Linked DNA regions of Homo sapiens. The protein of the gene in region 2 interacts with the protein of the main gene of each other region in a pairwise test. Each region holds a gene or a part of one and is shown on either strand. Other genes may lie near its edges. The genes, in order: DSC3, PKP4, CDH2 and CDH5.

The links.
Region 1: the proteins of PKP4 (region 2) and DSC3 interact in a two-hybrid assay, tested with the Homo sapiens proteins (one study listed by BioGRID).
Region 3: the proteins of PKP4 (region 2) and CDH2 interact in a two-hybrid assay, tested with the Homo sapiens proteins (one study listed by BioGRID).
Region 4: the proteins of PKP4 (region 2) and CDH5 interact in a two-hybrid assay, tested with the Homo sapiens proteins (one study listed by BioGRID).

Annotation. Positions count from the first base shown.
Region 1 is NC_000018.10:31,004,729-31,011,757, reverse strand, and holds part of DSC3 (desmocollin-3 isoform Dsc3a preproprotein), read left to right. Parts: intron 1-3,232; coding exon 3,233-3,489; intron 3,490-3,599; coding exon 3,600-3,742; intron 3,743-4,626; coding exon 4,627-4,851; intron 4,852-7,029. UniProt on the Homo sapiens protein: A component of desmosome cell-cell junctions which are required for positive regulation of cellular adhesion. Required for cell-cell adhesion in the epidermis, as a result required for the maintenance of the dermal cohesion and the dermal barrier function.
Region 2 is NC_000002.12:158,662,939-158,669,967, forward strand, and holds part of PKP4 (plakophilin-4), read left to right. Parts: coding exon 1-150; intron 151-333; coding exon 334-507; intron 508-2,909; exon of another isoform or gene 2,910-3,143; intron 3,144-3,474; coding exon 3,475-3,625; coding exon of another isoform or gene 3,626-3,639; exon of another isoform or gene 3,640-3,726; intron 3,727-6,781; coding exon 6,782-6,977; intron 6,978-7,029. UniProt on the Homo sapiens protein: Plays a role as a regulator of Rho activity during cytokinesis. May play a role in junctional plaques.
Region 3 is NC_000018.10:27,950,443-27,957,136, forward strand, and holds the end of CDH2 (cadherin-2 isoform 1 preproprotein), read right to left. Parts: intron 4,186-6,694; exon of another isoform or gene 4,076-4,185; intron 1,918-4,075; coding exon 1,711-1,917; 3' UTR 524-1,710; downstream 1-523. UniProt on the Homo sapiens protein: Calcium-dependent cell adhesion protein; preferentially mediates homotypic cell-cell adhesion by dimerization with a CDH2 chain from another cell. Cadherins may thus contribute to the sorting of heterogeneous cell types.
Region 4 is NC_000016.10:66,383,667-66,390,695, forward strand, and holds part of CDH5 (cadherin-5 preproprotein), read left to right. Parts: intron 1-3,142; coding exon 3,143-3,431; intron 3,432-4,657; coding exon 4,658-4,774; intron 4,775-5,691; coding exon 5,692-5,856; intron 5,857-6,709; coding exon of another isoform or gene 6,710-6,736; coding exon 6,737-6,924; intron 6,925-7,029. UniProt on the Homo sapiens protein: Cadherins are calcium-dependent cell adhesion proteins. They preferentially interact with themselves in a homophilic manner in connecting cells; cadherins may thus contribute to the sorting of heterogeneous cell types.

The DNA.
Region 1 (7,029 bases), on a different chromosome or scaffold from region 2:
GCCTCCCAAAGTGCTAGGATTACAGACGTGAGCCACCGTGCCTGGCATCTTTAAGTACTTTTTAATCTCAGTGAGTCATCTTTTATTTGAAAATCAAACACTGTATAATCATGGTGTTCAAAATCCATGTTTCTGTCATGTAGGCTATGTACCTAATGATGACTAACCTTTTGAGTACTGATTAAAGAATGACATCACTATGTTGTTAACTCTAAAGGAATCCTCCTCTTCCAATGCCCTGGTTCTTCCTTGCTAGTCAGAATTATATCCAGGGAAAGAGTGCATGTTATTCATTCCTTTATACCTCAAAGAGTTAAGTAATCAGTAGGCCAAACCAAGAATTGCTCTGGTATACTTTTAGCTGAATAAAGCTTGCAAACATTGTCTTACTAGTTAGCGTCTCCTTTTATTGCAATATATTGGCTGTTAACAAAAACATACAGCATTTATTCCCTTCATTCGCCTCTGTGACAGCTTGAGAGATTACTCAGAATTTAGTGTAAAGCCTTATTTTATGCTGTAGTGTTAAATGTCATTCTTACAACAATTTCACAGAAGAGAAGAGTTAAAGAGACTAAATAACTTTCCCAATGCCACACAGCTAGGATGTAGTGTAGACAGAATTTGAACCTAGCTCTTTGACTCTAACTATACGCTGTCAAGCACTATGTTAAATTGTTTTCCACAGCTGTGTGATCTTGGAAAGTTGGCCTCTGTGTTATCTGTAAAATGGGAACAATACTTCTTTCTGCCTCCCTAATAGCTCTTCAAATATAATATTGAACGTAACAGCACTTGGTAAACTGTGGGATATTATTATTTTATTTTAAAAAGTTATGCTATGTCCTTGAGACTAGTGTTATAATGTTCCAAAATAGATAACTTTTCTGTAACCACAAAGCATGAGTGATACAGGCTTTTGCTGTGTTCTGGGTAAACTCATTCCACCTCAGTGGCTTCTGTCCATTGGAGCAGCAGCAGTGACGCATATGGGCTTGAGTGAGGATAGTATTATTCTTGGTCCTTCTCAACATGGAGAGTCCTCAGCTCCATTTCCACAACTATACATTTTCTAGGGAGTTGTTAACATCTCAGTGCAGATGTGGGATATTTTTAAGCACTTTTTTTAAGTGGCGAAACAAAAACGTACCCTGAGGTGGAAGAGAATTTACAGGCTTTCCTATTAATTAATGAGATTAACTAATCCCATTAATCTTTAGGATTTCATCTCACCAGATTTTTAATTTTGGAGAGTTTTAAGCTACTAAAACAATATCCATCTTAAGCCTCGAAAAATGGGACAAAGAAACTCCAAGGCTTCAGCGAGTGTTTCTGGATTGAATAGTTGCACCTCCTCCAGTGCAGCAGCTGTTCTCTAAATTTCCATCCATTTCTCATTGCCAGCAGTTGCTCTTACTCTCTGTGTGATCACACCAGCACATGAAATGTGTGAAACAGTATTCATCAGCATCAAACGAACAGATATTAATATTTTTTTCCTTGACTCTCCAGTTTGTGGGATATACATACAAAATAAAAAAAGGTTTTACATATGTTTTGTAGATTCTAAGATTCAGAAACTTTCTTGACTTTTTAGTGGACTCGTGATACTAATGTCTTACTCTGTTAATACCTAGGTGTGGAGAAAGATTTAAAATAATTTTATTCACCAGTTTTGATTTTGTTCAATGTTTAGCCAGTGATTGTTTTGATAAGCAGAAAGAGAAATTGAAGAAAAAGTGCTTCAACTTTATAGTACAGTGTAACATAATGTTTTATGGGTTTTACTTGATTTGTTATCTAAAACTGAATTTTAGTCAAAGATTGATTTGGAAATTTTTTAGAGATCAGTGAGCCAATTAAGCAGCACACGATAGCAGAGGGATTATAGCGTAGGCTAAGGAAATGGACTCAGGTCAGACTACCTGGCTTCAAATTCAAGCTCAAATGATTATCTTTTGGTCTTAAAAAAAAATCAGTTTATCTCCTTTTCCCGTTTTCTGCTCTGTAAAATGAGGATGAGGTCAATAATACTTACTTCATAATGTCATGAGGATTTAGTGAGTTTATTTTCACTGTTAGAGTAGTGCCTTAGATTCAATGATAATTAAAATCAATCACATAGTATTTCCCTTACTCCTCTGTGTATCCACTGTGAATGTTTCATTGGATAAATTATAGACAATGCCAAAGTATAATTCTCAAGTTTTCAAAAATGTAATTTTCATAAAAACAGGTAGTGGGCATGGATGGATAAAGGTTTTAACTCATTCATGAAGGAACCAGCAAAAAGACAAGTTGATTCCTAAGAAGAAATGAGACTCTGGATGGATTTTGATAAAAGAAAAGCAGCAATTAGATGGCTCAGTTAGATGCCTTAGAGGGCAATTAAAACACACATTTGGGGCCGGGCATGGTGGTTCACGCCTGTAATCCCAGCATTTAGGGATGCCAAGGGAGGTGGATCACCTGAGTTCAGGAGTTCGAGACCAGCCTAAGATGGCAGAACCCCATCTTTACTAAAGAAAAAAATACAAAAATTAGCTGATTATGGTGGCACGTGCCTGTAGTCCCAGCTACATGGGAGGCTGAGGCAGGAGAATCGCTTGAACCAAAGAGGCAGAGGTTGCAGTAAGCCAAGATTGCGCCACTGCTCTCCAGCCTGGGTGACAGAATGAGGCAAGACTCTGTCTCAAAAATAAAATAAAAGAAAATAAAATACTGGAGATATCTTTTCTATGAGACAGAAAATGAAATCATTGCACCTTTTGGTTTTGTGAAAGTCAACATCAAACTTTACAAGAGTTATAAAATGCCTGGGCCATAGTCAGTAGTAACTGATAAGCCAAATAAAGGCAACTTCCCATACTCAGATGACCGTTAGCCCAGCCTGTTAGACAGTGCTCCAAGCAGGACCATAAGAATACTGTCATCTGTTTGCATTACTTTTTGAATCAGAGTAATTTTCCTTAGTAAGAGTGAAATATGAAAATATTTCCGGAATTTCGTTTGTCCAACTCTATGAAACTACCTGCAGAAGTTGTTGGACCATTCTTGGTAGAGGCTTAGCACGGGATCCACTCTCTGTTTAGCAAGGGATAAAAGTCAGTATTAACAACATGTGAACATAGAATTTATGCAGCACTGGTCAGGATGACAAATGTTCACTTGCCATTTGAAATGCCAGATGTATTTTACACTGACACTGATATACATGGACTTTATTTTAAAGCCACTGAATTATGAAGAAAACCGTCAAGTGAACCTGGAAATTGGAGTAAACAATGAAGCGCCATTTGCTAGAGATATTCCCAGAGTGACAGCCTTGAACAGAGCCTTGGTTACAGTTCATGTGAGGGATCTGGATGAGGGGCCTGAATGCACTCCTGCAGCCCAATATGTGCGGATTAAAGAAAACTTAGCAGTGGGGTCAAAGATCAACGGCTATAAGGCATATGACCCCGAAAATAGAAATGGCAATGGTTTAAGGTAAAAATAAATCTATAACCACATACTAATAATGTATTTGTAATCATTGAGATAGTAACTTATTTGAAAACATTTTCTGATGCTAAAGACTATTTTTTTTTTATTAACAGGTACAAAAAATTGCATGATCCTAAAGGTTGGATCACCATTGATGAAATTTCAGGGTCAATCATAACTTCCAAAATCCTGGATAGGGAGGTTGAAACTCCCAAAAATGAGTTGTATAATATTACAGTCCTGGCAATAGACAAAGGTAAAAAAAAAGTTTTAATCTGGTATTCTATAAAGGAATTAGAGAATAAAATGTAATTATTCTTATGCAGATTTATTTTGGTGGTAAGTGTATGGAATTCTTTGAAATTACTTTAAAGACTCTTTCTGTCTCTCTTAATTATCTAACAAGGTGAAACTGTTTGGTGACAAGAAGCCGTGTTTTATTTATCTTTATATCCCCAATAGGGCAGGACCTTAAATTCTTATGTATTTCTATGCTAGAGGACAAAAATAAAACTGAAATCTAAAACTAGATAAAATGGTCTCATCAGACTCTTCCACATCCGTTTGTGTCACTTTAAATTGAGCTTTTATATAGTTCAGCTGCATATTAGGTCAAAATGATCCTTTTCTTGAATTCTGTTCCTTAAAGTAACCTAGAGTTTTTCAACCTTGTCTTCACATTAAAATAAAAATATTAATCTGTAGATACTTTGTTAGACTAACTGAATCAGAATATCCGGTTGTGGAGCCTAGGAATCTTATATTTTAAAAAAATCTTCCTAGTGGTTTGAATATATACTGGGATTAGAAATCTTATCTGTAACCACTTTACTGCTTACTAACATGTGGCACCTGGAACCCCCAAAAATAGAGATTGAAATTCAGACATTTATTTTTATTTGGTAGTAATTCTGGTAAAAGATTTATTGACAGTTGTATCTGATATTATCAGTAGCAATAGTCATTTCAAATTAGCTGCAGATTCTATTTATCTGTCTATGTTCTTATTTATTTATCATTTCCTTTAATAATCAGTTTATTTAAAAACAGATCATGTATAGAATATAATTGACTTTTTATTCTTTAAGAAACTATGAAAGAATTTTAAAATAACACTAAACCTTATTCCTGTCTCCTTAGATGATAGATCATGTACTGGAACACTTGCTGTGAACATTGAAGATGTAAATGATAATCCACCAGAAATACTTCAAGAATATGTAGTCATTTGCAAACCAAAAATGGGGTATACCGACATTTTAGCTGTTGATCCTGATGAACCTGTCCATGGAGCTCCATTTTATTTCAGTTTGCCCAATACTTCTCCAGAAATCAGTAGACTGTGGAGCCTCACCAAAGTTAATGGTATTTAATAAAAAATAATGATTTATAAACTCTGAAATAACAGAATAACTGGAGGATAGATTGACTTGCTTACTTACACAAAGCATGAAGTAAAACTGAGTCTCATTAATATATTTTAGAAGGATAAACTAACCTTTTACAAATATTATATGGGGGCTCTGTTATATATAAAATGAAGGAAGATGTAATTTTTATGAAGGCAACATTTACATTTACAACAAAGGAAAGCTTTGTTAAAATGTTGGGCAGCTTATCATTAAGACAAACTTTGTGTGTGTGTGTGCATGTTTTTAAAAATAATGCCAATGGCTGGGCATGGTGACTCATGCCTGTAATCCCAGCACTTTGGGAGGCCTAGGTGGGTGGATCACTTGAGGTCAGGAGTTCAAGACCAGCCTGGCCAACATGGTGAAACCCCATCTCTGTTAAAAATACATAAATTAGCTGGGCGTGGTGGCAGGCACCTGTAATCCAAGCTACTGGGGAGGCTGAGGCAGCAGAATCACTTAAACCAGTAGGTGGAAGTTGCAGTGAGCTGAGAGATGGTGCCACTGCACTCCAGCCTGGGGGACAGAGGGAGACTCCGTCTCAAAATAATAATAATAATAATAATACCAGCGAGGTGAGGAGAGAGCAGAAGATGTGTAGTTTAAATTGTATTGTAAGCTGACTCTGGAAGTGAGGAACTCAGGTGTATAGACCAAGCACTCTAGGGTATCCTGGAAGTGAACCTGGCGGGATATAGCAAGGGATATGGGAAGGAGTATTGAGGGGCTGCTGCCTATTGTAGCAGTTTCTGGGGGCTGTCATGTTCTGTACTTCATCCATACTTCATTCTGTTGTTACTGCCATGTTCTTTCATGCAACTGGGCTTTTGTGTATATAGCCATATCTACATAGAATACCTCCTTTTCCATTTCTTAGCTTGATATTTATGAGCATGATATTTTTTTCATGATATTTATGAACATCTACTATCTATTAAGCACTCGTCCAGATCCTGAGGATTTATATAGAGATGAACAAGACAGACACAATCCCAGCTGAGATGCTCCACCTCTGAAGTTTGTCTTGAATTGGAAGGAGTGGCACCATGACCCTTCGCTACCTGCATTGCAGTGCCTTTCCTGTTGTATTAACATCTGATTACTTCTCCCTTCCAATACATGAGTTTCCTAGAATGTTTGCAATTCATCTTTGTACTTCCAGCACCTAGCCTAATGCTTAGTAGATACTAACTGCTTCATAAATGTTTGCTTGTTCAATAATTGATTAATAATGTGCATAAAAGAAGAAACATACCAGGAGAATAAGTATATCCATGTCATTAGAGTTTAGAAGGTTTTAGTAAGAATGCCAAGAGGTTGGGTGGAAGGAAGGGTAGCATCTGGTGGTGAAGGGCCTTGTGTGCCAGGCTGAGGGGACTAACCTTGGTACAGTAGGCAACAGCAATTATGCATTGGGAATGTGCAAATAAGGCAATGCCATTCCCAGATTTACATCTTTTAAAGGTGACACTGTTGACAGGAGGACAATATGAAGGGGGCAGAGTTGAGTGAAGAAAAATCAGAGGCCAATGCACTACTGTGAATAACTGAGACATGACAATGGCTCCACTTGTTGTCTTGAGGGAGCGGAGAGATTTCAAGGATCTTACCTTAGACACAGTGTGGTCTTGAAGGGTCCTAAGTAAACCCAAGTGGTAATTCATATTCCTCTAGGGAGCCTTCAGGTATGAGGTGCAGCCAAAATCTTTGAAATTCTTACAGCTACAGCAGAGCATTTAATCAAGGCTTAGGAATTCCAGATGACTTCCAGGGTGTGTATTATGCTACTTTTTCATTTTACTTAGTCTATTATAAAAGCTCAGGGAGGCTGTAACTGCCATTGAAATTCTGTGGAGCTTTTGGTTAGTTGACAATATGGTCATTAAAATAATAGATCAAGACTATTGGGGAAAATTGACTATCAGAGTTGATAAAAGTGAATTGTTATATAGATATTTCTGTTTTGTGTAAGCCTTATAAGTAGCCTGAGTGACATTAATTAGCTTCTGGTACTAAGATTACTTCCAGATGCAAAGGTGTTAATCGTAAACAATCTATTGTGCTTTGAAAAATTACCTTATCCATATGAATAGTGCGCAAATACTAGAAGGTCAATGGATAAGAAACGTAA
Region 2 (7,029 bases):
CGGCTGGAGCTGGAGGTGCCCCAGGCCCGGTTACTGGGACTGAACGAATTGGATGACTTACTAGGAAAAGAGTCTCCCAGCAAAGACTCTGAGCCAAGTTGCTGGGGGAAGAAGAAGAAAAAGAAAAAGAGGACTCCGCAAGAAGATCAAGTTAGCATTTTATTTTATATGAGACTCTCAAGTTTAATTTTTCTGGGAGTGAGGAATCACATATTTGGCAAGAAAATAAATTTTCTGCATAGCTATAGCTGAGTCCCGCAAAGGTGAATGTTTTCAAGTATTGGAGATCATGTTCATTCTGCCTCCATTTAACGTGTGCTGTTTGTCTTTCAGTGGGATGGAGTTGGTCCTATCCCAGGACTGTCGAAGTCCCCCAAAGGGGTTGAGATGCTGTGGCACCCATCGGTGGTAAAACCATATCTGACTCTTCTAGCAGAAAGTTCCAACCCAGCCACCTTGGAAGGCTCTGCAGGGTCTCTCCAGAACCTCTCTGCTGGCAACTGGAAGGTAGGATGACTTCCACTTATCTACACTTCTTTCCATCTTTGCAAACTAACTTGAAATGTTATATATATATGTTCTGCCTCAGTCAGATCAGCCCTGATGGTGAAAGGGTCACAGCTACTTAGCTTGTGTGTGAAGGGGTTAAAGGGAAAAAAGGGAGACAAGCAGTTGCTCTGGGGATACAAAGATAAATACAAGTCCCTCACTATGAGAAACAGAAGGCTAGTGAGAAAAACAGATGGTGCCAGCACAGTGTAGAAGCCACAGGATGTATGTGCTGTGGGGTCCTGAAAGAAGACATCTAACCCAGCCACACAGTGTAAGGGAAGGTCAGGAAAAGAGCGGAGTAAGGACGTGGAGGAGATTTCCTGAAGGGGATGCTGCCCGGCAGAATCTCTGAAGATGAGTGAAAGTAAGCCTGTAGAGGCTGAGGCTGTGGTATGGAAGGAGCCATCCAGATAACAGGGACAACAGGAGGAGGACAGTCTTGTGGTGCAGAGAAGACGTGTGGGCCAGGACTACTGGCTGCCCACTGGGGCCCACCATGGAGCCAGGCATCATGGATAGGCCTGAAGGCCAAACTTCAGGAGCTGAATCCTAACCTACACACAGGAGGGACTACCGAAAGAGTCTGGGCAGATGAGTGACAGAGACGGGCTAATATCATCACTGCTCCCCCACTTCCATGGCAGTGCAAAAGGTGGATTCGAGGAAGGGAGAGTTAGAAGCAGGGATTGGATTTGGGAGCCAGTGCAGCAATACAAAGGTGAGAAATCTTGAGTGGCAGGACAGAACACAGGTTGGGCAGCACTGTGGGGAGGGATAGAGGACCTCTGTTCCTCTCAGACCGTTACAGACATGCCTGTGTCTAAGGTTTCTGCATCTTTTTGCAAATGTATGAGTATGAAAACTGAAGACAGTTTCCTTTTGTTACCACTGTAAGCAAGTTCTCAGAACTTTCTAAATGTCCCCCAGCAACTTCCCAGACAGTCCTTGTCTGAGACATTTTCAACCTCTAGTAATTTCTTGACAGGTGTATTTTAGTAGAGTTACTACAATGCTTGCTGTGGGCTTCTTCCCCCACCTTAACCCCCCAAAATGAGAATCTTTTGGTGATGGTGTTTTCAAGATAGTGAAAAGCATTGATAAGCCTAGGTATGGTTTGTTTCGTGCACGTGGCCACTATGTTGAATATAGAGCGATAACTATGGTCTAGTGCTAAGCCGGTGTGGTTATTTTGTTGTGGCTCCTAGTTAAAGTGCCAGTGACTGAGTGTGTAAGTGCTGGCTCTGAATCCAGGCCACTCTGCTTACCGTCTGGCAGCCTAGGGGCTCTGCCCACAGTTTCCACCTCCCTAAAATAAAGTGAATATTAATACCTGCCTTATAAAGTGGTTATGAGGATTTAGTGAGATACTCCCAGCACATAAGTATTTATAAACATTTATGTTGTAGAACAGCGTTCACCTTCAGCTTCTGTGACCAGAGGATCATTTGATGATAATAAAAGACAGTAATTGAAATCGATGTGATTTGACTTATTTAGAAGTTCATGTCTGGGATCATTTAGTGAGAGAGTTAGATGGCAAAGCTCATTTAAAATATAAACATTATATCTAAGCGATTTCAATAGTGAGTTAAAATATTGGACCTTCACTAAGAAAATGAGATAATCGTGGCCACAGATGTTATCAAGTAAGAAGCTATTTCAGGAGCAGTGATGACTGTAGTTCTCCAGAAGGGAGACGGGCTGGGCTGGGCTGGGCTGGTAGGTCTCCAAGTGAGACAGAAGGAGATGGTTCTGTTGTTGCAGGTTTCAGAGAGAAGTTCATAAAACTGCCTGAGTGCTTTGCCTAGTAACCAGTCATGTACTTCATTTTCCCCCCATAGATTTCATGTGATTTGAAAAATAGGAGTATGCATTTCATATGCAGAATATAAATAGGATCTTTGAAATGCATCTTTCCCTCTTATTTGTATTATTAAAATATTCTGTTGGTATTCAAGAAACTGGATGGTCAATCACATATTTTAATGTTCGAAATAATACAAAGGGCTGGTAGATCTCTGTCCTACTGTCTTGGTCACAGCAGGAAAGTATATGTTTTATGAGCAGCATCTTTCAATTACCCTAAAATTTGAAAGATGATTTGCATTGGTTGAAAAAGTCAATTAAAGCTCAAAGCTGGAAACAAGATTAAAGAACCGTTTTCTAACGTTACTCTTTTTGGTTGTTTCACTGATGACTTAGCGCTCATTTCCATTTTATAAGATATACAAACTGACTCACAGTACAGAGTTGCTTCATAGTCACAGAAAAATTTCTTGACTATGGATTTTTAAAAAACAGCATCAGCAGCTAACTAATCTTGAGTGAGAATGCATTTTGCACACAAATATACTTACTTTTTCACCAGGCTGTATGAATTATGATGCTGGATGTTTCTGGAGATTTCCCTTTCTTCTGAGGCAAGGGATTTTTCCAACTAATCTCTTTGACAGGTTTCTGAACTCGAAATATTGTTGCAGGGAATATAGAAAAAAAATGACTTGATGGAGACAGGTTCTCCTTTCATGTGTGCTGATGGGTTACTGTCTCTGCCATCCTATTTATAGCCTCTGGGTTTGGCAGGGGACCAACTGCAAAGAAAACACACGATCCTTCCTTAATCATGTTTATGTATCTGAGATAGAAAGTAATCACTGCCTTCTCTTTTCTGCACAAAAATATCTGGCAGATGGTGGTTTGAGATTTTCAGGCTTTGGGATTTCTTTTTAAATCAGTCATTCCAGCCTATCTTTCTCCCCAACTTTGGTTTTCTCTTCACTGACACCACAGATTTGATCTTCAATTGGAAAGAAACCATTTAATCTATTAGTTCATCTTTTGGAAACATCTTTTTTAGGTGACAGTAACATATGAGACTGGAACTCTGTTTTATGTTACTTCCTGCCTTATTTTTCTCACTAGTTTGCAGCATATATCCGGGCGGCCGTCCGAAAAGAAAAGGGGCTCCCCATCCTTGTGGAGCTTCTGAGAATGGATAACGATAGAGTTGTTTCTTCCGTGGCAACAGCCTTGAGGAATATGGCACTAGATGTTCGCAACAAGGAGCTCATAGGTATGTTCTGGTGACAAGATGAGCTGTAAATGTGAGAGCAGCTACAAAATTCATGAAACTCTTCTTTTGATTAATAAATATATGGCTTGTAAAATCATTAACAGCTGAGCCCTAGTCTCCAGTTTCTTGGCATATTTGAGTACTCCTGTTTTGTGACCATTCTTTTTCAGCAGGAGGCAAGCTCATTAATTAGTCATTGATTAGGGAAGGTAAATTTTCAGAAAGGCCAGCAATTTTAGTTGTACCTTACAACACTAGTAGGGTTAATGTCTCTCATTTCTAAGAGAGTTCTCTATATCCTGAGCAACAAAAAATCTTAATCTCCCTTTCCAATTTTTGGACTGCTACCTGCTAATTCACCAACACTACCATACTCTAAATAAAAAATCACATGAATGTTTTGTAGCTTTCCCCTCTCACATTGGTATAAATCTTTATCCCAGAGAAGAACCACTGTCCCAACATCATTTCCACCCTGGGCAGGGGCAGGACTAGGGTGAGCTAAGCAAGGCGCCAAAGGCACAACATTTTAGGAGGCCTTTACTCTCAGGTTTGTACAAGGTAGGGTTGGCACATGCACAAACCAAACAGTGAGGACCTCTGTACGCTCCGCACCCCAGGCAGCTTGCTTGCCTCTGCGGCATTGCCACATCCTAGGCAGGATGCGGGCTAAAGAAGACATCAGGGACCCCCATAAACCTGAGCTTCGTTCCCAGGATGTGCTGCTCACTGGCCATGCAACCTGGGGTATCCTATATAACCCCGTTCAGGCTCCGTAATTCTATCTAGATTGGAAATGAAAGGCAACTCCTCATCTCTGAAGGGGAGCTGTTGATGCCTGCTGTCCTAACTGGGTTTGCTGTAAAGAGGAAATGAGAGAGCTCCATGCCAAGTCCCACAGCTGGTGACAGGTCAGGGGAGAAGGAGGGGAAATGGGACAAGATCTTATGTGGATTCATGTGAATCTATAGTAAACTTAAAATACACCTGCCATGAGAGAAGGAGAGAGAAACAAGGGCGATGATGTTTACCATAAAGAATTGCTGTAAGGATTAAACGTGATGACTTACAATGGAAGCCCTTCACACAGTGCCTGACAGAATTGCTATTTTGAATTGTTGCCCAGATTAACCTGCTCTTAACACACCATTCCTTTAAGCCAAATCATCCCCCTACGGAGAGGAAAGGAAGTTCCTCCTCACCCTGTTCATGGTCCAGCTCATGCCTGATTCTTGTAGATGTGCCATATCTCTCAGTTCCCACACTTCCTTTACAGAAATCCTTCAGGTCCCTAAAGAGAGATATTCTTTAAAGTTATTTTTCTTACGTCTGTATTGTTTGGATTTCTTATAAGAAGCATGTATAATTTGGGCATTTTTAATGCTAAAAAATAAATGGTTGACACGTATATCCTGTGGCCTGTCATATTTCACAACGCAAAGACACAGGTAGACAGGAGTCCTTGAGCTGGTACTGTGAAGTGCTAAGACCTTTGGCAAGAGGAATGTGTGTTCCAAGTCTTGGCTTCCTCTCAGTGCATTTCTGTGTTTTCTGTGAATAACCCTTTTTAACTTCCACTGGCCTTCTGCCTCTCCAGTGATGAGCTTTTTTTTTTTTTTTTTAACCTGGCTGGAGCACTCTTGAACTGTTCCATCAGTCTGTTTTTTTGTTTCCCTATTCCCGTCTTCCTGTGAGATCTGCCTCACTCTTGGATTCAGTATTTGGCTCTAATTTACCCAGTACTTCAGTTCCTAGGAACCTTCCCCTTCTCTGACCTCTTCCCTCTTTTTTCACATTCATCATCAGCACTAGCAAAGGACTTTCTTTTCAGAGCCATTTTTCACAAAGAAGCAAAGTTTTATCACTTCATAAAAGTTACTACATACTCAACTGAGTGGGACCCACCCTGCTGTCTGGAGCTGCAAGTTCTGAGGGGACCGCCAGGCTCACTCATTCATAGGCAGAGTGAGCTGCCTCGGCCTAACCCCCAGGAGTGCAATTTAAAGTTATGCCTTAGCAAAATGACAAATTACATGTCATGGGCCTTTTGGTCATTCATGAGTATTCAAAATCACCAGAGCTAACTTATCATCTGCTCTGAAAACCACATTTATCTTGTGGCCTTACAGTGTCAGCACTGTTTTTCCACTCTTCATAGCAGTGTTTGTCGTGAGCAAGCCAGAGCCTTCCCTCTGACGTGCTGTACATCACACAGCATGTAGCTGAGACCTGTCTTCTTCTGCTTACCACTGTAAATAAACAGGCCTTTATAAAAAGCGATTGCACATCCACTCAATTATTAGCATAGGGGAGAACTAAGAAGATGTTTACTTGCACTTTAGTTCATTTCTTTTGTTTGTAGTGCACTTACAGTTTGTCAGTTGGTAATCGAAGTTGAAAAAGCTAGAGGTAATCTCTTTTTGGAGAGGAATAAGAAAAATTCAGTATCTATAAAGAAATACCTCAATAACTGTGAAACTCCCCTTGCCTTGTCTTAGCAAGAATTTCATTATTATTGCATTATTCCTGGGAGATAACATACCTATAATTTTAATACCAGAACTTTTACTTGTGTCATCTTTTAAAGAAACTAACATGTTGCCACCGTTGTCAGATGAGTTGCTGTACACCTCAGCTCTATACACAAAAATGTGTAACTGTACCCAGTTCATACATTAAGATCCAGAAAGATCTAACGAAAAGTATTGTTTGGCAGCCTGACTTGGTCCAGATTCAAAGGTAAGTTTTAAAAAGCTCTAAGAGGAAATTGAGGTATTTGTGATGCATAGGAATTCCATTGAGAATAAAATTTACTATTATAATTCCTTCATTACTCAATGTTACTGAAAATACTCGAACGAAAGTAACTTGATTTGTCTACCCAATTTTACGCATTGATTTACATTTGCTTTCAGCAATTGACAGTAATGTTTTATAAATGAATCATTTCTGCAAGTGACGTTGCAATAAATGTTAGCTTTCCCCTTATAATGACATTTGTCCTTTTCTTCTTTGCCATGGGTTTTGATTTTTTCCCCTATTATTGTCTCTTTGGGGGTTTTATTTTTAAGAGATTGCATGCCACCAGAATCTGAACAACAATAACAAAAACCTAGTACCTTCTGGAAGTAGAATTTACTCTTTTGCCGTTGGCAGGCAAATACGCCATGCGAGACCTGGTCAACCGGCTCCCCGGCGGCAATGGCCCCAGTGTCTTGTCTGATGAGACCATGGCAGCCATCTGCTGTGCTCTGCACGAGGTCACCAGCAAAAACATGGAGAACGCAAAAGCCCTGGCCGACTCAGGAGGCATAGAGAAGCTGGTGAACATAACCAAAGGCAGGGGCGACAGGCAAGTCTGCGGCAAGGAGGTGCAAGCAGTGCTCTTATTCCTGAGATTGTCC
Region 3 (6,694 bases), on a different chromosome or scaffold from region 2:
TGAAGCAAATGATCAAGTCAATGGATAAAGGCCAGTCAAATCTAAGTGTGTTTCACTAAGTACATAAAACGATGGCTTCAATGAATTGCACAAGAATTCCAGGTGTCCACTGCAGTTTCCAGGTTCAGTCCTATAACCCACTTTACTGAAGTTTCCCTTATGGTGGTGGCTCTAATGGGAAAGGCCTGTCAGTCAACAGAACAATTAACTTGAGCAGAAACAAATTAAAACATGAGTTATATTAAGAATTAACACCGAAGTTCACTGAAGGTAAAGGATGTGATTTTTCTATCACCACCAGTAGGGTCTATTCCTGAATCACTTGATGTTTTTCTTCTATGATGATGGGAAGGTCCAAAATGATTCTCTCTGCTGCACACCGTACATGGTTGCCATGCTACGCGTTTCAATGGTGAATAGTGCAAGAACAAATACATACTTTTTGTACTGTTGTTCCCAGTACTTGGGATTTTTGCAACATTCAAAGCAGCTCAAGTAGAAAAGAAAAAGTTCAAACCAGTCACCAGATCCAAAATTAGCATTTTATTCAGAACGCTGGGGTCAGAGGTGTATCATTTATATTCTGGTACACAATACAGAGGCAAAGCTGTTGTCAGAAGTCTCTCCAGTTTAAAAGCTTTTTTTTTTCCATTTTTTTTTTAAAAAAACACACACTTAGTAGTGCCACCAGTGTCAGGCCACCCCTTTCTTTCCTTTCCTTTTTTTTTTTTTTTGGTACAAATTATGTAAAACATTTGTGCTAAGAACTTTTCTCCCTCCCCAAACCAAAAAGAAAATAAAAAATAAAAAAATTAAAAAAATTAAAAATTGAGTATTCTAACTACAGCTCAACAATTGAATCAAATGTCACTGTTTTGTAAATACTTTATCCATAACGAAAGATATAAACATGCAAAAAACCTGAATCCATAGTCCAAATAATACATACACATGTTCTGAAGTTTCTGCACTTCTCCATAGACTATGCCAATAAAACATTATGTACACATACTATTTTTACAGTGAAGTGGAAAAATACAGAAATAAAAAAGTGTACATGGATTAAGACCAAAATGTGTCTAACATTCTAGTTTATGAAAAAATTCAATTTTGCTACAAATTGGTGATATGAAAACTCCCTTTATTTGCAACCAGCTGAGTAAGTTTTAAGATTTTAGTGAAAAAAAAAAAAACAAACTAAAGTCTAAAACTAGAAGTAATGTACATTTTCCAATCTCATGGTCTCATCCCCCAAGATAATAAAATCGCTCCATGAGTTTTTTTGTTTGTTTAATTTTGTATTTTAATAAAAGCAAATGCAATGTAACAAAAGCGTGTTGAAGCATATCATGGTTTAACTTACTGCTCCCACCACAAAATATTTTGTCTTTTACTTATCGTTTCAGAAATCAGTACCATTAAAGCCTTAAACAGAAAACTAATTCCAATCTGAAAAAGGTACAAAAAGGCACATAAAATCCCAGTGCTTCTGTACTGTAAAATTCAAGTGTAACTGAGCTCAGTGTTTTTCCAAACAGTATGGATCACTGATATTCCCTCTGAGCCCAAATTGGTTTGCAGCCTATGCCAAAGCCTCCAGCAAGCACTGTGCTAGTAGACTACAAAGTTAAAGCCTAGCTTCTGAATGCTTTTTGGGAATATCAGTTGAAATTGTTTGTACTTGTCCAAAAACCAAGTTCACCCTGAAGTTCAGTCATCACCTCCACCATACATGTCAGCAAGTTTCTTGAACCGTGGCCCCCAGTCGTTCAGGTAATCATAGTCCTGCTCACCACCACTACTTGAGGAATTAAGGGAGCTCAAGGACCCAGCAGTGGAGCCACTGCCTTCATAGTCAAACACTAACAGGGAGTCATATGGTGGAGCTGTGGGGTCATTGTCAGCCGCTTTAAGGCCCTGCAATTTGGAAACACAAAGAATGAAAGAATTAAGAGAGGGTTACACTTTACAAAACCACAAGCAGATCCTAATGAATTCACGGGATCAAACAAACACTTGTTTGTAAATTTCCATTTACATACCATATTTTCAACACATGGAAAAGGGAGATATAACCATTTGAAAGTTGGACAAAAATTAACTTATATCTTTCCGGTGCAAAGAAACAACCCTAAGCAGTCAAGCTCAGGGAGGCCAAGGCTTATGAAGGGAGGGGGTTAACTGGGTAATAAGTTGGACAGGTGGCAGAAATGAATGGCCCTGCTTGAGGCAGAGAAGAAAGGATCTTAAATAACATAATATATAGAGCAGCATTGCTAGATTAAATTTAAAAAAAGCACCTCACTGAAATACAAGAGACACACAAATGAGTACCATGTGGTCCATGTCCCTCCACAGGCTTACAGTCTAGCATAACAGGTATTACTACTGTGTGAAGCAAATGACAAGTGACAAAACTATGAAGTCAAAGCAAAAGCCATCAGGTTGTGGGGGAAAAAAATTCACATCAGCATTAAGAGCTAGGAGTTCAAAGAGAAAGTAGCATTGTATTTGACCTCATTTTGGAAGGACATCAAAGGAAGACTGAAGACAGGTCAGATGTGATTACTACATAAAGGGAGGTACTCAGAAAATCATTTATGTGACTAACATAGCATAAAATGTGGAATTAATTAATTGTAAACTGGTATTTTAAAAAATAGGGTATCTTCTAACTTCCAAAAAATCCTAGAAATGTCATAATCCAATATCTGTACACGGTATAAATATTGAAAAGAGGAGGACTCCTGTCAATCTAAAATAACATGCGTTATCTGGTTCTTATAAAGAATTTTAAGAAAAAAGAAACAAGGAAATAACTACTATCTATATTTGTAACTTTTGTAAGCAGATGCTTTTTAATATACAATTAGAGTCTCTATGCTCTGCAAAACTTCTAAGGATTTAGTATTAGGTCCTCTGGTATATTTTCTACTTAATTTTTTCCCCCAATTCCATTCTAGTACTCCTAGATACACTAACATTAGTCTCCAAACAATCGTTTGCTTTTTCCACACTCTACTTGTCAAATGCTAGTTGGCTTATATGGCCTCACCTATCTAAGATGTGTCACAGACAGTCCTACCCTTGAGAGATCAAGCCTGCCAATACACATGCATTTTATGAGCGCATACATGGGTTTTTATGAGCATGTGTTCACCTATCCTTTCAAGGTTACAAAGGAGAAACAGGGAAGAAGAGCAAAAAAATTAAGGTCAGAATCAGTATGGTGTAGTGGTTAAGAGATCAGACTGTGAGATGACACCTTAGCTCTCCCCAGTACTAGCTGTGGGACCTCCGCTTAACCTCATCTACAACTGTAATCATAATAATAGGACTATTATAAAGACCAAATGCAATAAAGGGACCCGAGGTCTCACCACAGTGACTGGCACATGTAGAGCTCAATGAATATTAGTTAGTATTTTTAAAAAATTTAAGTTTTGAGAAAAATGTCCTGCCTTGGGATTTGAAAAAATAAGAAACGATGAAGATATATTTTAAGAAACAAAATGGCAGCTGCTTGACTCACGTCAAAAATCAGAGAAAAAAGTACACATGACCAGTTTTCTCATCTCCAGGTACCTCTTTACTAACAATCCATGAAATTTAGCAGTACTTTACTACTTTTCGTCATGTCATTTTATACTGTTTATACTCCAGAAAAGCCTGTGTAAAATAAAATAAAGCAGGTTTCAGCAAAATACTTTGATATATACAACATAAATAACTTTAGATAGGATTTTATCTTATTTTTAGACTAAGCTACAAGGCAATTCTGCTAAGACTGAGAACCACAACCTACAATTTCTCAAAACTTGTAACTCCCTTCTGTGGTAGATTGTGTTACTGCCCTCAGTGATTCACTGCTCTTTTTCTGAAGGCAGAACACACACCCACACTCCCACAGAGCCTCTCTGGGGTCAGGGTTTACTTTCCCAACCACACTGTAAGGCTTGGCTGTCTGACTGGCTTTGGCCAATGCAATGTAAGTAGCTGTGAAAAGTACCCGCTTCAAGAACTCTATCTAATGTGTTTCCACCCTTCCACTAATCCCCCTTTCCCCCTCTGCCAGGAGAATGGCCTGCTCCAGATGGGAAGTTTATCTGCCTGGATCCTGAAACGAAGACGACATATGGATCAGGAACTGAGTCACTGACAGACTACAGCTGACTTACAACTTAAGTAAGAAGTAAACCTTCATTATTATAAGCAGCAATATTTTGGAGTGGTCAGTGATTGGTACCTTAGCTAACAAAAGCCGAAGAATGCACCTTCATTCATTTTGTTTGTGTTTATTCATTAGATTCAAGATGTATTTGTTGATTATCTATTAATATTATTGCAATGTATTCTGCTAACTGGTAGAGACACAGCTACTAATGAGCTAGATCCAATGGCTGCCCTCGTGGAGTTAATATTCACATATTAGCCTACACTCCTCTTCCCTACAAGATCTAGCAACTGCAAATTTAACCAACAGCGGATTGCCTTAGTTCAGCATTGTCTGACTTGGGGTCATACAAGTAGGCCCAAGAAGGATCTGAAGAAAAAACAAGAAAAATCAGGGAAATTCCTGATAAGGAGAATGGGTCCCTGAAAACAAATATTAAATTTTCATTATGACAATTGCTTTATAATACAGACAACAGAGACAATGGCTAAGATCACTTTGTTCAGGTCATCTGCTTTACCACAATTTAATTATTAAGCGAAAATACACACAGAGCCCTGGCCCAATCCTTATGATGTCAACACCAAACTGGAAATATGGAGAGGTCAAGACTCAAATTAGGGATAGCATTAGGAGAAATACCTAATGTAGATGATGGGTTGATGGATGCAGCAAACCACCATGGCACGTGTATACCTATGTAATAAACCTGCACATTCCGCACATGTATCTCAGAATTTAAAGTATAATAGTAAAAAAAAAAAAAAAAGAAAAAGAAAGAAAAAGAGAATGACAAGTTAAAAAAAAAAAAAAAGACTCAAATTAGCCCGAAAGGGTCAATGGCAAGGCCTCAAGTGTGTCTGAATTTGGAGGAGAAAAAAGGGATGGCCTGTGTTTACTATGTCCAGGGAATAAACACAAGAAGGGGTCTGGTCTTCCCTGGTGTGTTCACGGACCCCAGGACTCTTCATCAAATGACTAAGCCACCTAATTCAATTCCTTAAAATAAATATAATGCTTGTGATAATCAACTCCCATATCCACTATTGAGAGTCTAAAAAATATTATTTTCTTTATTTTTTAGCTCCTGCCCTGGCTTTCTGATCATCCTGGTAGTTTACAAATCTCTGTTTTCTTTATTTCTGTTTTTTTTTTTTTTTTTTTAAAGAGGTTAAGGCCATAAAATCCATTAGAGAGAGACCACTGTGCTATGCTAGAGCACGGCACATTGCCTTATGTTTTAATAATTACAAAAGGGCAAAATCACTGAACTTTTCAAGAGTTCTTAGACAAGCCAGCTTTCTATGCAGGTTAAGTACTTTAAATCCCTTCCATTTGGATAGCACTGATTTTTATCTGAGAATAAAATATGACTCTTCTGAACGAGGTATTATATAAACTCTTGGTAATATTTTGGTAATTCTAAAAAGATCGCACTGAAGTCCTAAGAAACTGACAGTAACAGGCACGAAATCTGAGTGAATGTACAGAAGAAATCCAGTGGGCAACAGAACCTTCTGGTTCTCCCTTATGGGATTCCTTTATTCTTGGATATGAACATTATTTCACAGGATGTACTGTTACCAAATTTACAAACTAAACGCCTGTGTTTCTCTAGGTTTGACTAAATTTAGCAAAGTATCCTCTTGTTCCACCTTTCCTGGAGAGGTAGATCTTGAATTCTGGATAAAGCTGAACTGTCTTCTAAAGACTGAGGCTTCTCTGCAGAGTGAGAGAGCTTGGCTCTGGCTGAATTCTTGCTGAGCTTGTATTTATAGACTTCTGATCCCAGGCTTTATGGGCGGAGACATGCTTTTATGAGGATAAAAACCCACATTATCCAGCGAGGAACACATGAGGGATGTAAAAGAAAAGAGGTCTTACTGTTTCCTTTACATTCTGTCTTCTACAGTCCTAGTGCCACTGCTTTAGTGGAGGTCATCATTATATCTTGCCTGGACCAGAGAAAAAGCCTGCCTAACTGGTCTTCGCCTGTCTCCAGCACTGTTCCAGCTTCTTTCCTACAAACTATTGGTTTCTGTCTCAAACGTTATTTGATATCACTCCCGCAAGTAAGACCTCTGACTGCTCTCTATGACTCCTTCCAAATGAAAGAGTTCCCCCGACAATGGGCAAAATGATTTTTAATTGGTGCATGAACACTTTAAAACAATTATTTAAGAAAATTAACTTAAAAATTGATGAACAGTTTAAGAAAATAACAAGAAGTACACAGAGAGGGAAAAAACTGGAAGGTGTTAACTCAAATGCCTGCTGTTGGGTAACCTACAGCATACAGTAAAACTCTTTAGAAAGCATTCAGTGAACCAAGACTGTTTACCCACCTTTTCTGTTTCAGCTATTCTCAGCTCCAGCAACCACGACTGAATTATGCACCCCCAAAGGGAATCCCCCCAAACCCCAAAGCATCATGTTCTTGTGCACTTCTATGTTGTTTATTCATTTTTTTTAGAATTATACTTCTTATATTTTTTATCTGATTAATATCCATCCATCCCA
Region 4 (7,029 bases), on a different chromosome or scaffold from region 2:
CAGGTTACAGAGCTGAGGCATGGCTTCTTGCCTCTAGTCCAGCTGTTCATCATGCATCCTGGCCACTGGGCCTTAGTACCTCCTCATGAACCCACCTGCCCCCTGCACGCCACAGCCTTGCTCCAAGATGCTTGTTGCTGCCCACCTCTCTCCCACCCTGCCCGACCAAGGGGGCAATCCTCACTCCCTGTCTCCACTTCCTCCCCTTCTAGAATCTTCCCTAGGCTGCATCATCTAACTTCCCACCCTATCAACCCCTGTCAGTGCCCTCACTGAGGGCTCCAATGACTGCACTGCTGCTAAACCCTGGGGACACTTTCCAGACCTCATGGGATGTGGCCATACCCTCTGGAATCTCCCTCTTCTTTCTTGAGACCCCAGCCTCTCTTGAGTTCTCTGGAGGAGTCCAGCCTTTTTTTTTTTTTTTTTTTTTTTTGAGTCTGAGTCTCGCTCTGTCACCCAGGCTGGAGTGCAGTGGCGTGATCTTGGCTCACTGCAACCTCTGCCTCCCAGGCTCAAATGATCCTCCTCCCTCAGCCTCCCAAGTAGCTGAGACTACAGCTGGGTGTGCCACCACACCCAGCTAATTTTTTTTTTTTGTATTTTTAATAGAGATGGGGTTTCACCATGTTGGCCAGGCTGGTCTCAAACTTCTGACCTCAAGTGATCCACCCACCTTGGACTCCCAAAGTGCTGGGATTACAGGCATGAGCCACCATGCCCCCCGAGTCCAGCCTTTCTAAAGAGTCCTCACCAGATGCCTTCACACAAAAGCCCTTGCTCTATTTGACTTTAAATAATGTGAGGCAGACTCAGTAGCTCATGCCTGTAATCCCAGCATTCTGAGAGGCCAAGGCAGGAGAATTGCTTGAGCCCAGGAGTTTGACAACAGCCTGGACAACATAGTGAGACCTCATCTCTACAAAAAAATACAAAAATTAGCCGAGCTTGGTGGTGCACACTTGTAGTCCCAGCTACTCCGGAGTACCTGTCTCAAAAAAAAAAAAAAAAAAAAGAGGCTGGGCGTGGTGGCTCACACCTGTAATCACAGCACTTTGGGAGGCCAAGGCAGGCAGATCACTTGAGGTCAGGAGTTTGAGACCAGCCTGGCCAACATGGTGAAACCCTGTCTCTACTAAAAATAGAAAAATTAGCCAGGCACGGTGGCACATGCCTATAATCCCAGCTACTCAGGAGGCTGAGGCAGAATAATCGCTTGAACCCAGGAGGCGGAGGTTGCAGTGAGCCAAGATCGTGCCACTGCACTCCAGCCTGGGCAACAGAGCTAAACTCAAAAAACAAACAAACAAACAAAAAAGCAATGTTGCACTTCCTCAGCATGCCAGCCTCTGAGGCTGCAAACCTAGATCCTGAGAGCCACAATGGGATCTGTACCCTCTGTACTCCTAGTGGGGGCCTGGCACCTCCCAGGCACCAAGTTATATTTTTTAATTGAATAGAATTCTATTTTGGGGACATACTAACCTTCTATGAGAGTATCATTGTATATGCATAGAATACTATTCTATAGGAACTATACCGTTCCTAATATTTTCTGTTTCTATGATTCTTTAAATGGAGATCCTCTAACCTGTGGCTCTATTATTGATAATTATTAGCTAGCATTTATAGAACCCTGTTTGGTGTAAGATGCTTTACATATATTATTTTCCAAATCTTACTCCTTGGGACATGAACAGTACATGTTACACAGAAAAATGGTTCTGTGGTCTAAGAAGTATGGAAAATCCTGAGTTACACAAAGCTCACTGGAGTTCTTTTCTGCAGAGCTGTACATTGTAAATCTCCAAGAAGAGAATATTTTATGCACCATTTTCTGTACTGGGCCCAGGGGTGTGCTGATATATGTTTGACAACTGGCTGTCCAGGGGAAAAGTTCTGATGCGTAGCACTTGCCAATTTCCATGGTGTAAATATTCTCACCATGTCTCATTTCAAGCTATCAATGTGATGTCATCGAAGGCCAAGACAAGACAGGAGAAGATCCTCATGAGCACATCATTATGTAGCATTTCCATCATACAGATACCATAAACACAGATAACCTCAAAACACAGTCAAAGGTAGCAAAACAATTAGGAAGCGATGAATTCTGAGAATTCGTTGTTTTTCATGATTTATTTAATTGTAAGTTCATATAATTTAATTTGTAATAGTGGCTGTATTTAACAATCAGCTCACAAATATTCCTGAAAATTTAAGCTGGTTCTTGAAAGCCAAGCTGATACAATCCAGCGCCAGCACACCACTGGCTAGGACCCCATCTTTGCGTGGAACAGCAGAAGAGTTCAGTGTTTCCCAGAACTCATCTTCAAAAGTGCTGTTCTACTCCTCAGAGCAAAGCAACATCAGAAGCAATATTTCCATTTTACAAATGAGGCAACTAAAACTTAGAGAGGTTAAGTGACTTCTACAGGGCAAAAATATCCTTTGCCTTCCAATGGCACCAGGTATATTTTTTCCACTCAAAAAATGTTTTCTAAGCACCTACTCTGTTCAGGCACCATTCTAGGCATGCTGGGGCTCTGCCAGGCAACTCACACCATGAGAACAACTCATTGGTGACTAGTCAGAGGTTCTTTTTTTTTTTTGGCTTTTTAAAAATTTTATTTTCAGGGGTACATGTCCATGTTTGTTACATGTATATTGCATATTCGTGGGGATTGGGCTTCTAGCATACCCATTACCCAAATAGTGAACATTATGGCCAATAGGTTATTTGTCTACCCTCGCCCTCATCCCAACCTCCCCTCTTTTGGAGTCTCCAGTGTCTATTATTTCCATTTTTATGGCCATATGTACCAATTGTTTAGCTCCTACTTATAAGTGAGAATATGTGGTATTGGATTTGTTGCTTCTGGGTTAGTTCACTTAGGTTCATTTAGGATTATGGCCTGCAGCTCTATCCATGTTCCTGCAAAGGACATGATTTTATTCTTTTTTATGGCTGCCAGAGGTTCTTGATAAAAAATCTCAGTATCATATTTAGGGACCCTGGCCAGCACCACACACACCACATACACACATGCACAGGCACACCTGTGTACACACACTCTCACTCACACACTCACACACAGCCACTGCCGCCCATTCCCAGCTCACGTCACCTCTTCTTTTCTAGATCAAGTCAAGCGTGAGTCGCAAGAATGCCAAGTACCTGCTCAAAGGAGAATATGTGGGCAAGGTCTTCCGGGTCGATGCAGAGACAGGAGACGTGTTCGCCATTGAGAGGCTGGACCGGGAGAATATCTCAGAGTACCACCTCACTGCTGTCATTGTGGACAAGGACACTGGCGAAAACCTGGAGACTCCTTCCAGCTTCACCATCAAAGTTCATGACGTGAACGACAACTGGCCTGTGTTCACGCATCGGTTGTTCAATGCGTCCGTGCCTGAGTCGTCGGCTGTGGGTACGTTGCATGCCCACTCTGTCCTCCTCCCTCCCTCATCCCCAGCCTGGGGGCACCTCTCACATCAGCCACTTCACTGCCTGGGGTAGGAATCCAGTGAGTTCAGGGTAGTGATTGTAATGCCTGTGTTGCCACTTTACATGATTTGAAAGAAACTCTAGTTCCTAACAAGCTCTGATCTGGCCACAGGCTGAGCTCTGACCCTAGTCATAGACCAAGCCCTGATCCTAATCATGGACTGAGCCCTGACTACAGTCATAAACTTGGCCCTGATCCTGATCCTGGACTGAGCCCTGATCCTGATCATGGGTTGAACCCTGACACTGGTCACAGACCAAGCCCTGATCCTGATCGTGGACTGAGCCCTGACCCTAGTCATAAACTTAGCCCTGATCCTGATCATGGACTGAGCCCTGCCCCTAGTCATAGACTGAGCCCTGATTCTGATCATGGACTGAGTCCTGACCCTAGTCATAGACTGTGCCCTGATTTTGATCATGAACTCACCCCTGGCCATCAGAGGCATATCTCACTACTCTTTGGAACAAACTTCACTCACTTCCTCTGACTGTCAGGACTAGCACACCAAGAGTGTAGCCTTTACATGTGACGACTGTCATGGCCTGCCACTAAGGCAAAAGGATTCATCTCTAGGGGCCATGCAGGAGTGGTGTGGGGGACAGAGCACTAGCCCCAAGGTATGTCACCAGCCTGGGCTCTGGGCTCAGGAGGTTACTACTCCACCTCTTCAGTACACCTCAGACTCCAGAGGGTGCCAGAAAAGAGCTTCCCTCTTCAGTCCAGAGTCTCCAGCCAGGGCCCTGGGACCAGACCTTCGGGTTGAGTGTGAGATCCTGGAGTTCAAGGGGATGCAAGAAATGACACCACTCCTTTGGGGGCACCTTTCCAGGAGAGGGAGAAGCAGCTCATTGCTGTCCTCCATTTCTCTCCCTGACCCCAACCCTCCGCCCCCTCCCTCATTTCCCCAGGAAGCACACAAACCACCTGATCTCTTTGACCCCTTCAAGGTTGACCTGGCTGGGCCCCCACTGCCACCAGCACTTTGCCCCCATGCAGGCTCCTCAGAAAACAAAACAGCCTTTTATTCCCAGGACCTGGGGGAGGTGGGGACAGAGCACAGCCTGAGCCCCATCTGCTCTGTTCCAGGAATGGGGTAAGGGGCCTAGCAGTCACAAGTCAGCAACCCCAGGATTCTCTCTCTGCAGGGACCTCAGTCATCTCTGTGACAGCAGTGGATGCAGACGACCCCACTGTGGGAGACCACGCCTCTGTCATGTACCAAATCCTGAAGGGGAAAGAGTATTTTGCCATCGATAATTCTGGTCTGTGTGACTAACACTCCTGGACAGTCACTGATTTGGAGGGACAAGGGGAGGTGGATACTCCAGGTGCATGTGCTAAGGGAAGTCCAGTCTGACAGGTGTCACTAGCTACTGAACCACACTGTACCATGGAAGTAGTCAGTATCATATGTAAAGACAAGGCGGCTGGTCAAGGGAGAAGGAAGCAGGCAGGTGCCCAAGAGGTGGACTCAAGTCCAGGGAACAAAATCAGGATCTTGTTACCCAAGAAGTGGCCAAGGGGCAGCAGAGGATGGTGGCTAGCCGCTCTGGGTGCAGGTTCAGACAGATCTGGTTTCCAAAGCCAGCTCTGCCACTCACCCCCTCTAGAGACCTTGGACAAATCAACTAACTTCTGCAAGCCTTAGTTCCCTCATCTAGGAGGTAGGAATGCTTATATTTATATCGTATGGTAGCTGTAAAGTTTGAGTTAGATCATGTATAAAGGCAGCAAGGCCCATAGTAATTGCTTATGTGATGACTTAACAAAAAATATAAGGACTGACTCTTGGGAGCAAGAAAGAAGTCCAGTGGAACTGTCTTTCAGAGAGATGGCAAATACATAGCACAGATGCCACTACTATGCTACAGTGCACCAAGGCAGACATCACTAATCTATCACAGCACTCTTTCCATCTGAGCCTAGATATGGCCTCATGGTCTTTGTCAACACAATATTTCAGGTGGCGAGGACCAATACCGAACCCAACTATTGGGCCAGCTTTGGCCTCACAGTATAGGCTATGGAGGTAGTGGGTTGTAGACTCACAGTTCTCAGCCCCATTTGCACAGTGGAATCACCAGGGAAGCTCTTAAGTCAGGTTCTCTCTGGGCAGGCCCTAGGCATCGGTATTTTCTAGAAGCTGGTAACATGGTTCCTGCTGGGAATCTTTTTGCAGGACGTATTATCACAATAACGAAAAGCTTGGACCGAGAGAAGCAGGCCAGGTATGAGATCGTGGTGGAAGCGCGAGATGCCCAGGGCCTCCGGGGGGACTCGGGCACGGCCACCGTGCTGGTCACTCTGCAAGACATCAATGACAACTTCCCCTTCTTCACCCAGAGTGAGCCCCTCCTCTAGGGCCCTGGGAAGGGGGGCTGGGATACCCCAGACTCAGTGACTTGGGGCTCTGGGAAAAGAGTTACAAATCACTTTACCTCTCCCTCTATCCCAGGGTAGGCCTGATGCCCAAAGGAGTCCTTTGGGTGAAGGGAGGGGCCCTGCTTCCATCCCAATACCACATTCCCAAGGCCATCCTGCCGCCCCCTGCCACAATCCCCTCATAGGCCAGAGGGAAATCCCACTCCCTGCTGGGTGCCACCACTGTACTGTGTCCCACCATGAGACACAAGCAGTTTCACCCAGATCCCATGGGCTTGGGAAAATCAAAGCCCTGAGACTCAGGTCCCAGCTAGAAATTCCCACAAGCCAGTGAACATGGGGACAGCAAAGTTCTATATCCAGAGCCAGGGCTGGGCCCTGACCCCACCTACACACTGATCCACCCCACAGAGAATGTCTAATGAGAGCTTTTCCCATGCCTGGGGCAGATGGCTCTCCACTTGCAACTCCCAGTGCTGATACTGTCATTCAGTTGTTCAGCCACCCTAGAGACAGGCCAATTGTCCTGAAGTGGCTTCCTCGTACATGGCATAAGCTCCCTGAAGGCAGGACTTGTCTCTCTTGTCCATTGATAGGTCCCCTAGCAAAGTGCCTGGCATACAATAGGTGCTCAATAGCTATTTATTGGATGGAGGGATGGATGGATGGACATACAGATAGGGAAGACCCTCTTTACCTTGAGAATCCCAGGGGTATTATTATTTATGATTATTTTATTATGCCCATTTCTTTTATCAAAATATGTTAGAATAGCTGAAAGAGGCAATCGCCTTGTCTATCTCATTAACCCAAAGCCCTTTGGGGTGCTCTGTTTGCATCAGCCAAGTACACATTTGTCGTGCCTGAAGACACCCGTGTGGGCACCTCTGTGGGCTCTCTGTTTGTTGAGGACCCAGATGAGCCCCAGAACCGGATGACCAAGTACAGCATCTTGCGGGGCGACTACCAGGACGCTTTCACCATTGAGACAAACCCCGCCCACAACGAGGGCATCATCAAGCCCATGAAGGTTTGTAGGCCAATGGCAACAATGTCAAACGTGAGGCTTGGGGCTCTTGGCACCCACAGGTCCTGCTTGGGGATTGCTCCTGGGCCAGAGACCATCAAAGGACCA